Linked DNA regions of Homo sapiens. The protein of the gene in region 1 interacts with the protein of each later gene in a pairwise test. Each region holds a gene or a part of one and is shown in the gene's direction. Other genes may lie near its edges. The genes, in order: HGH1 and TTC4.

What was found.
Region 2: the proteins of HGH1 (region 1) and TTC4 interact in binary tests that used the Homo sapiens proteins (3 or more experiments, as listed by UniProt).

Annotation. Positions count from the first base shown.
Region 1 is NC_000008.11:144,132,704-144,140,996, forward strand, and holds HGH1 (protein HGH1 homolog), read left to right. Parts: upstream 1-5,070; 5' UTR 5,071-5,132; coding exon 5,133-5,725; intron 5,726-5,803; coding exon 5,804-5,904; intron 5,905-6,011; coding exon 6,012-6,110; intron 6,111-6,305; coding exon 6,306-6,397; intron 6,398-6,485; coding exon 6,486-6,608; intron 6,609-6,684; coding exon 6,685-6,849; 3' UTR 6,850-8,148; downstream 8,149-8,293.
Region 2 is NC_000001.11:54,739,861-54,743,157, forward strand, and holds the end of TTC4 (tetratricopeptide repeat protein 4), read left to right. Parts: intron 1-1,550; coding exon 1,551-1,653; 3' UTR 1,654-2,797; downstream 2,798-3,297.

The DNA of each region.
Region 1 (8,293 bases):
GAGATCCAGATCATCCTGGCCAATGTGGTGAAACCCTGTCTCTATTAAAAAAAAATACAAAAATTAGGCCAGGCGCCATGGCTCACGCCTGTAATCCCAGCACTTTGGGAGACCAAGACAGGCAGATCACGAGGTCAGGAGATTGAGACTATCCTGGCCAACATGGTGAAAACCTGTCTCTACTAAAAAAAATACAAAAAATTAGCTGGGCGTGGTGGCAGGCGCCTGTAGTCCCAGCTACTCGGGAGGCTGAGGCAGGAGAATGGCGTGAATGTGGGAGGCGGAGCTTGCAGTGAGCCGAGACTGCGCCACTGCACTCCAGCCTGGGCAACAGAGCGAGACTCTGCCTCAAAAAAAAAGAAAAAAAATACAAAAATTAGCTGGGCATGGTGGTGGGTGCCTGTAATCCCAGCTACTCTGGAGGCTGAGGCAGGAGAATCCACTTGAACCCAGGAGGCGGAGGTTACAGTGAGCCAAGATCATGCCACTGCACTCCAGCCTGGTGAAAGAGAGAGGCTCCATCTAAAAAAAAAAAAATTAGCCAGGTATGGTGGCACACATCTGTGGTCCCAGCTACTCAGGAGGCTGAGGTGGGAGGATCACTTGAGCCTGAGAGGTGGAGGCTGCAGTGAGCCAAGATCGCACCACTGCACTCCAGCCTGGGCGATAGAGCGAGACTCCACCTCAAAAAATAAATAAATAAATAAATAAATAAAAGTTCCCGGCCAAGTGTGGTGGCTCACGCCTGTAATCCCGGGGGGGCCGAGGAGGGTGGATCACAAGGTCAGGAGATCAAGACCATCCTGGCTAACACAGTGAAACCCTGTCTCTACTAAAAATACAACAACAACAAAAAACACAAAACAAAATTAGCCGGGCGTGCTGGCAGGCGCTTGTAGTCCCAACTACTCGGGAGGCTGAGGCAGGAGAATGGTGTGAACCCAGGAGGCGGAGCTTGGGTGAGCCAAGATCGCACCACTGCACTCCAGCCTGGGCGACAGAGCCAGACTCCATCTCAAAAAAAAAAAAAAAGTTCCCTTCTGCTTCACATACTGTGTTACCTCTGTAAATAGGTATATGCCTTTGGTTTACTTAATATCTAGTGATTCTTGGTTTTTGTTCACATTCATTAGTGACATCAGTTGATCAGTTTGGGTGACATCATGGGTTTCCTCAGTATTCAGGAAGGTATTTTTCTCTCCTAAACAGAGAGTTGTCTGTGGGCTCATGGGTGACTGCCAGAAAGCCAACAGGCTGCAAATAGGGTTGCCAGATAAAATACAGGATACCCAGTTAAATTCGAATAGAGGATACGGTATTTACTATTTGTCTGAAATTCAAAATTTACTGTCCAGGATACAGTTAAATTTGAATTTCAGACAAACAACAAATACTTTTTGGTATCAACGTGTCCCAAATGTTACATGGGTGCCGTCTTTTTAACAGCTTTGATATATAGTTCAAATACAATCAACCCATTTAAAGTGTACAATTTAAATGTTTTAGTACAATTTAAATGTTTAGAATATTTACAATTTAAATATTCACAGTTGTGCAACTACCAGCATAATCTAATTTTACAACATTTTCAACATCCAAAAAAGAAAGCCCAAACCCATTGTCTCAGTCAGCTCAGGTTGCCATAACAAAATACCATAGACTAGGTGGTTTAAACAATAGAAATGTATTTTCTCACATTTTTGGAGACTAGGAAGAAGTCCAGGATCAAAGTACTGACAGATTTGGTTTTTGGTGAGTGCCCTTCCACTTCCTTAGAGGCCCCATCTCTAAACACAGTCACACTGGGGTTAGGACTTCAGCATATGCATTTTTTGGAGGGACACTGTTCGGTCCATAGCACCCACTAACAGTCACTCCTACTCCCCTTACCCTACCCTTCCCTTGACAACTGCTAATTTACTTTCTGTCTCTATGAACTGACTATTCCGGACGTGTCTTATAAATGGGATCATAAAATATGTGATCTCTTGTGATTTCTTTCTTTCATTTAGCGTAAGATTTTGGAGTTCATATGTGTTGCAGCATATGTCAGTACTTTGCTCCTTTTTATGGCTGAATAATATCCCTTTGCATGGATTTATCTGTTTATTTTTCCATTCGTCAGTTGACAGACATTTGGGTTGTTTCCACCTTTTGACCACTATGAATAATGCTGCTTGTACACGTTCACGTTTCTGTGTGGTTTTCAGTTTTCATTTCTCTTGACTAGATGCCTGGGAGTGGAATTGCTGGGTTATATGATAACTCTGTTTGCGTTTTTTTGATTTTTTTTTTTTTTTGAGATGGAGTCTGGCTCTGTCATCCAGGCTGGAGTGCAGTGGCACCGTCTTGGCTCACTGCAACCTCTGCCTCCTGGGGTCAAGTGAGTCTCCTGCCTTAGCTTCCTGAGTAGCTGGGATTACAGGCGCGTGCCATCGTGCCTGGCTAATTTTTGTATTTTTAGTAGAGATGGGGTTTCATCATGCTGGTCACTCTGGTCTCGAACTCCTAACCTTGTGATCGACCAGCCTCAGCTTCCCAAAGTGCTGGGGTTATAGGCGCGAGCCACCATGCCCAGCAAATGTCTGACTTTTTGAGGAGCTGACAAAATGTTTTCCACAGTGGCGGCTCCATTTTACAGTCTCACCAGCAGTGTATGTGGGTTCCAATTTCTCCACATCCTCATCAACAGTTGTTTAATCTGTGTTTTTGGCCGGGTGCAGTGGCTCACGCCTGTAATCCCAGCACTTTGGGAGGCCAAGGTGGGTGGATCATCTGAGGTCAGGAGTTCAAGACCAGCCTGACCAACATGGAGAAACCCCGTCTCTACTAAAACTACAAAAAAAAATTAGCCAGGCGTGGTGGTGCATGCCTATAATCCCAGCTACTCGGGAGGCTGAGGCAGGAGAATTGCTTGAACCTGGGAGTGGAGGTTCCAGTGAGCTGAGATCGTGCCATTGAACTCCAGCCTGGGCAACAAGAGCAAAACTCCATCTCAAAAAAAAAAAGAAATTCTGTGTTTTTGATCATAGCCATCCTAGTGGGTTTTGCACCAATAATGTCTGCTACACCCTACTTTGCAAAACCATTATGACTATATATATGAACACTATGCAAGGTTTGCTCTCAGGGAAGCTTTGGAAAGGACCCGTCCAAGCAAGGCACCATGAAGCTTAAATTTTATTACCTTCCTTTAAGTACTGTTTTCTTTTTTTTTTTTTTGAGACAGTCTCACTCTGTCACCCAGGATGGAGTGCAGTGGCACAATCTCCACTCACTACAACCTCCCCCTACCAGGTTCAAGCAATTCTCCTGCCTCAGCTTCCCAAGTAGCTAGGACTACAGGCACACGCCACCATGCCCGGCTAATTTTTATATTTTTAGTAGAAATGGGTTTCACCATGTTGGCCAGGCTGGTCTTGAACTCCTGGCCTCAAGTGATCCACATGCCTTGGCCTCCCAGAGTGCTGAGATTGCAGGTGTGAGCCACCGCACCCGGCCTAATTTACTGTTATTTATTTTATTTTTGAGATGGAGTCTCCCTCTGTTGCCCAGGCTGGGGTGCAGTGGCGCTATCTTGGCTCAATGCAACTTCTTCCTCCCAGGTTCAAGCAATTCTCCTGCTTCAGCCTCTCGAGTAGGCGGGACTAGAGGAGTGTGCCACCACCCCCGGTTACCTTTTGTATTTTTTTTAGTAGAGAGGGGTTTCACCATGTTGGCCAGGCTGGTCTCAAACTGCTGACCTCAGGTGATCTACCTGCCTTGGCCTCCCAAAACGCTGGGATTATAGGCATGAGCTACCACACCTGGCCTAAGTACTGCTATCTTGAAGGAGGCAGACAGAAACCAAGCAGTCATGGGTGGCGGGTGGGCTGAGTCTCTGTAAGTTGCCCAGGGAAGATAGCTCTGACAAATAATTAGAAGTTGCCAGCCTTGTGTACAGCTGAGAAAAGAGCATTCCAGGCAGAAGAGACAGCAAGTGCAAAGACCCTGAGGCCAGAATGGCCACCAAAGTTGTTTGGTTCCGTGTCCTGAGCTACCAGCTTGGCAGATGGCTGGTGCCCAAAAAATGCTGGAGTGAGGGAATGCCCTTCTTTTGCCCTCCCTTCCTCCCAGTCTGTGTGTCTCTAGAAGGTTGCTGCTCCGCCCACAGTGGAGGACACGTGAAGAACTGGAGTCCTTTTCTGGGGCAGACTCCAATACTGGGACAGAGAAACTCTTCTGCCACGACCATGGAACTGGGAGGTCCCAGTGTCTTTCTTTCCCAACTGCTCTGAGAAAATCGGCCAGTGGCAGGTGGAAATGATATGGAGCCACAGAGCAGCAGGGCAGCAGAGAGGGAGAGCAATGGTAGGGTAGACAGTACAAGGCTCCAGAGAGCTCCTGGATAAAGCAGTGCCGGAAGCTGGCTCCCTCCAAACCTCCATTTACAAATTTTCTCTTCGTGCAAGTCAGTTTGAGTTGGGTTTGTCACTTGCGACTGAAGACGTCCTGACAAATGCCCCAAAGCTACCAGCTCAGAGATGCCCAGAGGCCTCTCCAAAGCTGCCTCCTCAGGTCCCCACTGGGGCCCTGTGTTGTCCTGTCCCTGGACGGCCTGAGCTTCTCGGTGGCCGTGCCAGCCTGGACAAGAGCAGGCCTTCCTTCCGAGAGGCCCGTGGCCACTCCCCCATTCAGCCCTTCTCTGACCCGACAGCCTAGTCGAGGAGCCGGGGCGCGGGCCTCAGACCCTCAGGGCCCACGAGAAGCCAGGGCCGGCTGACCAGGTTCGGCGTGGCCAGCGCCCAGTGGGAAGCACTGGCCGACCTAGCCGAGACTACATGGACGCTTCCAGCGAGTGTGGACGCGGCAGGCGGCCAAATCGCGCCGGGCCTCGGTCCCCATGGCTCGGGACATCACAGCGCTCAGTCTCCAACCTCCGCAGCTTCCGGCCAGACGCCGAGACCCATAACTCCCCGCGCGCGGCCTGGCCCCTCCCCTCCGCACGCCGGTCCCGCCCCTTGAGCCCAGTGCGCAGCCTCGGATTGGCCAGGGCGGCTTTCGCTCCTCTGGTGGGCGGGGTTGCGGGCCACACAGCGGACCCCTAAGCGGACCGCTGGCACCGGTCGGGTGGCAGCAGAGTGTCGCTCGACATGGGGGAGGCCGGGGCTGGCGCTGGCGCCTCGGGAGGGCCGGAGGCAAGCCCGGAGGCAGAGGTGGTGAAGCTGCTGCCCTTCCTGGCGCCGGGCGCGCGGGCGGACCTGCAGGCGGCGGCGGTGCGGCACGTGCTGGCGCTGACTGGCTGCGGACCCGGCCGCGCGCTGTTGGCGGGGCAGGCGGCGCTGCTGCAGGCGCTGATGGAGCTGGCGCCGGCCTCTGCCCCGGCCCGGGACGCCGCCCGCGCGCTCGTGAACTTGGCCGCCGACCCCGGCCTGCACGAGACATTGCTGGCGGCCGACCCCGGGCTGCCAGCGCGCCTGATGGGCCGCGCGTTGGACCCGCAGTGGCCCTGGGCCGAGGAGGCGGCCGCCGCGCTAGCCAACCTCAGTCGCGAGCCGGCGCCGTGTGCAGCGCTCATGGCGGCGCTGGCGGCCGCGGAGCCGGCAGACTCGGGCCTGGAGCGGCTGGTGCGCGCGCTGTGCACGCCCGGCTACAACGCCCGCGCGCCCCTGCACTACCTAGCGCCGCTGCTCTCCAACCTCAGCCAACGCCCTGCGGCGCGGGCCTTCCTACTGGACCCCGACAGGTGAAGCCCAGGGCGCCCGCGCGGGCGGGGAGGGGACGGAAGTTAGGGGGGACGGCCCTAAGTGACACCTCCCAACAGGTGCGTGGTCCAGCGGCTGCTGCCCCTTACCCAGTACCCCGACTCCTCTGTACGCAGGGGCGGGGTGGTGGGGACGCTGCGGAATTGCTGCTTCGAGCACCGTGAGTGGTGGGTGTGGCGGGGGTGCGTTGCCAGGTGTGGGGACTGGACTCCGGGGCTGCTCTGGACCAGTTTCCATTCCCGTCTCCCCACCCTCACCATCCCTCAGGACATCACGAGTGGTTGCTTGGACCTGAGGTGGACATTCTCCCCTTTTTGCTCCTGCCCTTGGCTGGGCCTGAGGATTTCTCCGAGGAAGAGATGGAACGTGAGTGGCTAGTGTGGAGCCTCAGAGTTGGCCGGAGAGGAGGGAGGCCAGTGGAGGGAGAGAGAGGTGTCCAGGCCACAGGCTCCTGAAACTTTGCAGCAGTGAGTTGCTGAGCACAGGTGGGACTTACACAGGCAGAGCCTGGCTCAGCTGCCCAGCCCAGGGACACAGTGGCTCCCACACACTCACCCCTAGGGCTGCCTGTCGACTTGCAGTACCTGCCACCAGACAAGCAGCGAGAACCTGATGCAGACATCCGCAAGATGCTTGTTGAAGCCATCATGCTGGTGAGCAGGAGCCCTGCTGCAATAAGCACCACCCCAACACACACACATGAGCATGCTGACATCTGGGTAACCTCTTCCACCTCCTCAGCTGACAGCCACAGCACCAGGTCGGCAGCAGGTGCGGGACCAGGGAGCCTACCTGATCCTTCGAGAGCTGCACAGCTGGGAGCCGGAGCCCGACGTGCGGACGGCTTGTGAGAAGCTCATCCAGGTTGGTGCAGGGTTGGAGAGGCTGGGGAAGGGGTGTCTGTAGCTGGCCAGCTGCTCACCTGCTTCCCGTCTGGCAGGTGCTTATTGGGGACGAGCCTGAACGTGGCATGGAAAACCTGCTGGAGGTGCAGGTGCCTGAGGATGTGGAGCAGCAGCTGCAGCAGCTGGATTGCAGGGAGCAGGAGCAGTTGGAGCGGGAGCTGGCCCCAGAGCCATGGGTGGAGAGGGCCACACCCACCTGAGGCCCCTGCAGCCGGACACCAGCTCCAGGGTCCCCTTTGCCAGGCTTTCTCAGACCAGGCCTTCCTGCAGCTGTCTGCAGGCCCCCTGGGTCCCCTTGTTCAGAGACTGTGCTCTTCTGAGAAGCAGAGCTACGCTTAGGCTCCAGTAAGGATTGGAGGCACTTTCCAGCCCTGTGCAGTGTTGCTACCAGCAAGAATGAAGGTTGTGCAGAGCAGTACTGTGAGGTAGGCACCGTGACTCGGCTGCCTGTGCAGAAGGTGGAGGTGGCAGGCGGATGGCCAGGGAGCCATGAGAAGACTCTTCCTGGGCACGGCGTGGGGACTGGACAGAAAACCACTGCAAGCCCCAAGGAGCCAGCTGAAGCCTCCCAATCCCCAGGGCACTGCAGAGTCTGGGCAGAGGTGGGCGCATAGGTACAAGTGCTGCTTTGTCAGCCTCACTCCCTGCAGCTCTCAGCTCCCTGTTCCCTGAGACCTGGCCTCAAAGGGCTGACCCAGCCATACGTAGATCCTGGGGTCTTTCTAGGACTGTGCCTCCCTGCTTGACCTATGCTCCAGGACCCTGCCCTCAACCCTTGTCAGCTCCCTAAGTCTTCCTGTTTCCCAGTCTCAGATTGAGTGGGTGCTCTCATTGGCCTCTCTAGCTAGGCCGTCTCCCTGGTCAGCTTCCTTGAGCCTGGGCCACTCCTCCCTGGCCTTCTTACCTCTGCCAAGAGCCTCCAGATGTGCCTGCAGCCTAGTCCCTGCCCAAGCTTCTCCCCCAGCCACCCTCTGCCCCTGTGGTAGAGCCCACTATAGGCCCAGGCGCCTTACGTGCTTCTCCCCTGGACCTATGTGCATCCCTCACCTGCCAGTTATGTGGCTGCCAAGCCCCACAGGCTGTCATGGTGGCTCTTGCCACACTTCCCTTCCTGAGCTGACCTGACCTCACTGCCACCTCTTGCATTGGGATCCTGAGGGCTGGCCCCTGCTCACTGATGGGCCCTCCCAGGCCCGTCAAGCCCTGGTGAAGGAGCTTAGCTTGTCTTCTTGGCAATTCACAATGCCTCACTCCACACCCTAAAACTGGAGCGTCCCCTATGGTCTCCTGCTGTGGCTTGGGTGCCGGGCGTCTCCCGCCTCCAGGATCTCCTCTCACCTGCCCCCATTAAAGCTCTGCCACTCATGCAGGCATGTGTGGACCATGTTTTCCCCTGGCCAGAGCCCCCACCTGCCACTGGAGGCCAGTTGCCCTCTTAGCACTCAGACATCAGCACTGTCTTCACAGAATAAATGCTTTATCTGGCCTTGCCCCACCCACCCACCCTCAGTTTACTGGAGCGCCTCCTGGAGGCGCTCACTCCCAGGCTGGCTGCTACGAGCTCTAGAGGACCAGCTGGGCAGAACCCACCCCTCTTCTGGGGTGCGCTTCTGGAGGCCTGAGCTCAGGGCCCGTATTCTCCTT
Region 2 (3,297 bases), on another chromosome or scaffold:
TGATTTTTAAAAATTAAAAAGATTTTAAAAGATGTACAGAATAGGCCGGGTACAGTGGCTCATACCTATAATTCCAGCATTTTGGGAGGCTAAGGCATGAGGATCACCTGAGCTCAGAAGTTAGAGATCATCCTGAGAAACACAGCGAGATCCCGTCTCTATAGAAATCTTTTTTATGGTGTTGTGCACCTGTAGTCCTCGCTATTTGGGAGGCTGAGGCAGGAAGATTGCTTGAGCCCAGCATTTCAAGGCTGCAGTGAGCTATGATCACACCACTGCACTCCAGCCTAGGTGAGAGTGAGACCCCCTCCTCCCACTACCCAAAAAAATTACAGAGTAATGTAAAGATTTGAAGTGTACTGTTCAGTGGTGAGGCCTGAAGTAGGAGGAGGTGGATTAGAGGTTTAGGAGGTAGATTGGATGGGAGCTGGTGTAGTGTTGAGTGATGTGATAGGGGTGTCCAGCTAGTCTTAATGCTTTGGCTTGGTAGGCAGGAAGGAAAGGTTTTTCCAGATCTGATTGATACCTTTGGTGGTGTTTTGCTCTGGTCCCAAATCTCTCTTCTTCTAGTTTTTGGACACATTTTTAGCTGCTCATTTTCTCAGTTGTTAGCAAATTACCCAGAATTCTTTAAAGGCCTGAGTTCTGCCCTACCCCAGAGGAGAAATCTAAATAGAAAGCAGACCGATGCTTGGAGGAAACCCGTTTCATGCTTCTCAGAAAATGTAAATGCTGTTGGAAGTTACTACCTTTAAAATTATTACCATAGGCAAGAGCCTACCCAGGACTGGTTTCTGGCAACTTCAGACCCTAAACTGGGTGGAGCCACGAAATAGGCCCTCTGTCCCAAAGCAGGCCCACTGAGTAATACAACACCCCTATCCCTGGGAGGCCAAAGCCCTCCCTGCCTCTCTAGCCTGCCTGACTCCTTTTGCTTTGTGCCCTAGCCACAGCAAACATTCTGGTTACTTGCACCTCCTGGCTTTTGCTCCCCAACCCCCATCACCACCCCTTCCCCAAATTAAAGCCAAGTTCAGACATGGCATCTTCCAGGAAGCCTTTTTTGATTCCCTTCCTCATAGAGGGAATCGTGCCTCCTTGGGATAATGCTGCGCCTCACAAATGCTTCTGCAGTTGTGCCTTGCTGTCATTAATTGGTTCCTCATCTCCCTCCCCTCCAGGACTGAATTTGAGAACAAAGATGATGGTGTGTGGGTGTTGGTTTTTTAATCTCTGTGTTTTCAGCACAGGGCCTGGCTTACCACTGAATGTTGAATGAATGAATAAAACCATGCTTTATATTTTTATTTCATATTTAGCCACAGACATGCATGATGCCAGAGGACTGGCCTAAAGGTTCTGGCTAGGTTGTAAGGATGAGAATGTCATGCTAATTTGCCAGATTTATGAACAACCACATAACTGTGCTAAACTTGCATTTTCATGTTGACTCCCATCCAGAGGCTCACCTTGCATGTTGTTAGGAAGGTGCATGGATGGTTAAGATTGTAATTAAATTAACACCCTCTCTTTTGTTGTGTTCACGGCAGGTACTTTGTAAAAGCCCTGACACCAGCATTTTTGGTCTGTGTAGGATCCTCTCCTTTTTGCAAGAATTTTCTCCGGGGGAGAAAGGTGTACCAGATACGATGACTAAGCCAGGGCCCCTGGATCTCCTCCCTTACCCTCCTCTGCTGGGAACCTAGCACACCTGAATCAGCTGGACATACTGCTGGAGTCCAGTGCTTTCTTTCCGTCACCCTGGGGATAGTCCTTCCTGGCATCGTGGTGGGGGAGGAGCCTCTGGCTTCCCTAAACTGCAGCCTCTCTGGCTGGTCTTCACTTTCCTCAGTTGATATAAAACTCTGGGTCTTGGCCATGATGTCCTTGGACTCCATCGCTAAAGGGACCATCTGCTGCAGTTACCACAGCAACTGACCTGAGCGGCACCCTGGTCTGTGGAGATGGACTCAGGATCCAGTGACATGATTCTGAACTTTTGTGGAGTTTGACACCTTAGAGAAGCTACCCCTCAAACTGCACATCTACACACAAACAAACAATGCATAGGATTCCAAGGCTTTAAAGCTGAGAGACCCTGGCCTCAAGTTATTTCATGCGCACAGAGGGAAGCCATGTGGGGTTGCTGAAGATGCCTTGAGGTGAAATGGGGGCAGGAAAGCCACATCTTGCTCTGCATTTATAAAGACCGTACAAACTCAGATCCTTGGTACCCCTAAAAAGATTGCCAATTTTCTTCATCTTTGCCATATGGAGGACTGTGACAGACTTTGGACAGTGGCCTCTTGAGTTCCTCTGCAGTTTTGACATTTAGGATTTTGTGTCTTTTAAACTGGAAAATCTTCTAGCATGTTGGGTTGTTACAGAGTATATTTTTGTCTGCAGCTGTTTGTTGCCCCATTCCTAAGAGGAGTTTATCCATCCTGACTTGTAGCTGTGTGACTTCTTGCAGTGCCCCCACCCCATCCCCCCGGGAGAGTGTACTTCCCTGCTCCCAATGCAGAGGGATATGCACAGGCATGAGCTGTCCTGCGTCTGACAGAAGCCTGAAGAGTCATGTGTGGTTGGCCTGTGCTCTTCCCTCTGCTGTGAGAACACATTTCCCACAGAGGAGCCGTTCCATGGAGCCGAGCTACAGCAGCTGGCCTGCAGCCACTGAGTGTCACAGCAATGAGAGAGCAATGTTTGCTGTAGTAAGCAGTGAGATTTAGGGGTTGGTTGTTACTATAGCAGAGCTAATACATGAGTAAACTGAAGCCAGCTGCTGTCCTTAAAAGTGGACTAATTTGAGGCTGGGTGCGGTGGCTCACGCCTGTAATCCCGACACTTTGGGAGGCGGAGGTGGGTGGATCACCTGAGGTCAGGAGTTCGAGACCAGCCTGACCAACATAGCAAACCCCGTGTCTACTAAAAATACAAAAATTAGCCAGGCGTGGTGGTAGGCATCTGTAATCCCGGCTACTCGGGAGGCTGAGGCAGGAGAATCACTTGAACCCGGGGGGCGGAGGTTGCAGTGAGCCAAGATCGTGCCATTGCACTCCAGCCTGGGCAACAAGAGCAAAACTCTGTCTCAAACACAAACCAAAAAAAAAGTAGACTAATTTAGAGTTTTGTGTAGTGTGCCTCACTGTCTTTGAAAGGAAATTGGCTGTGGAATATTTACAAAGAACCATGCAGCTTCCAGGTGCCGGTCCCTGTCTGTGGCTTGTGGCTAGGAAGCTGAAGTTCAGCCTCCTTCCTACTCCTGGTTTTGGCCACTTAAGGACCTGAGGACCA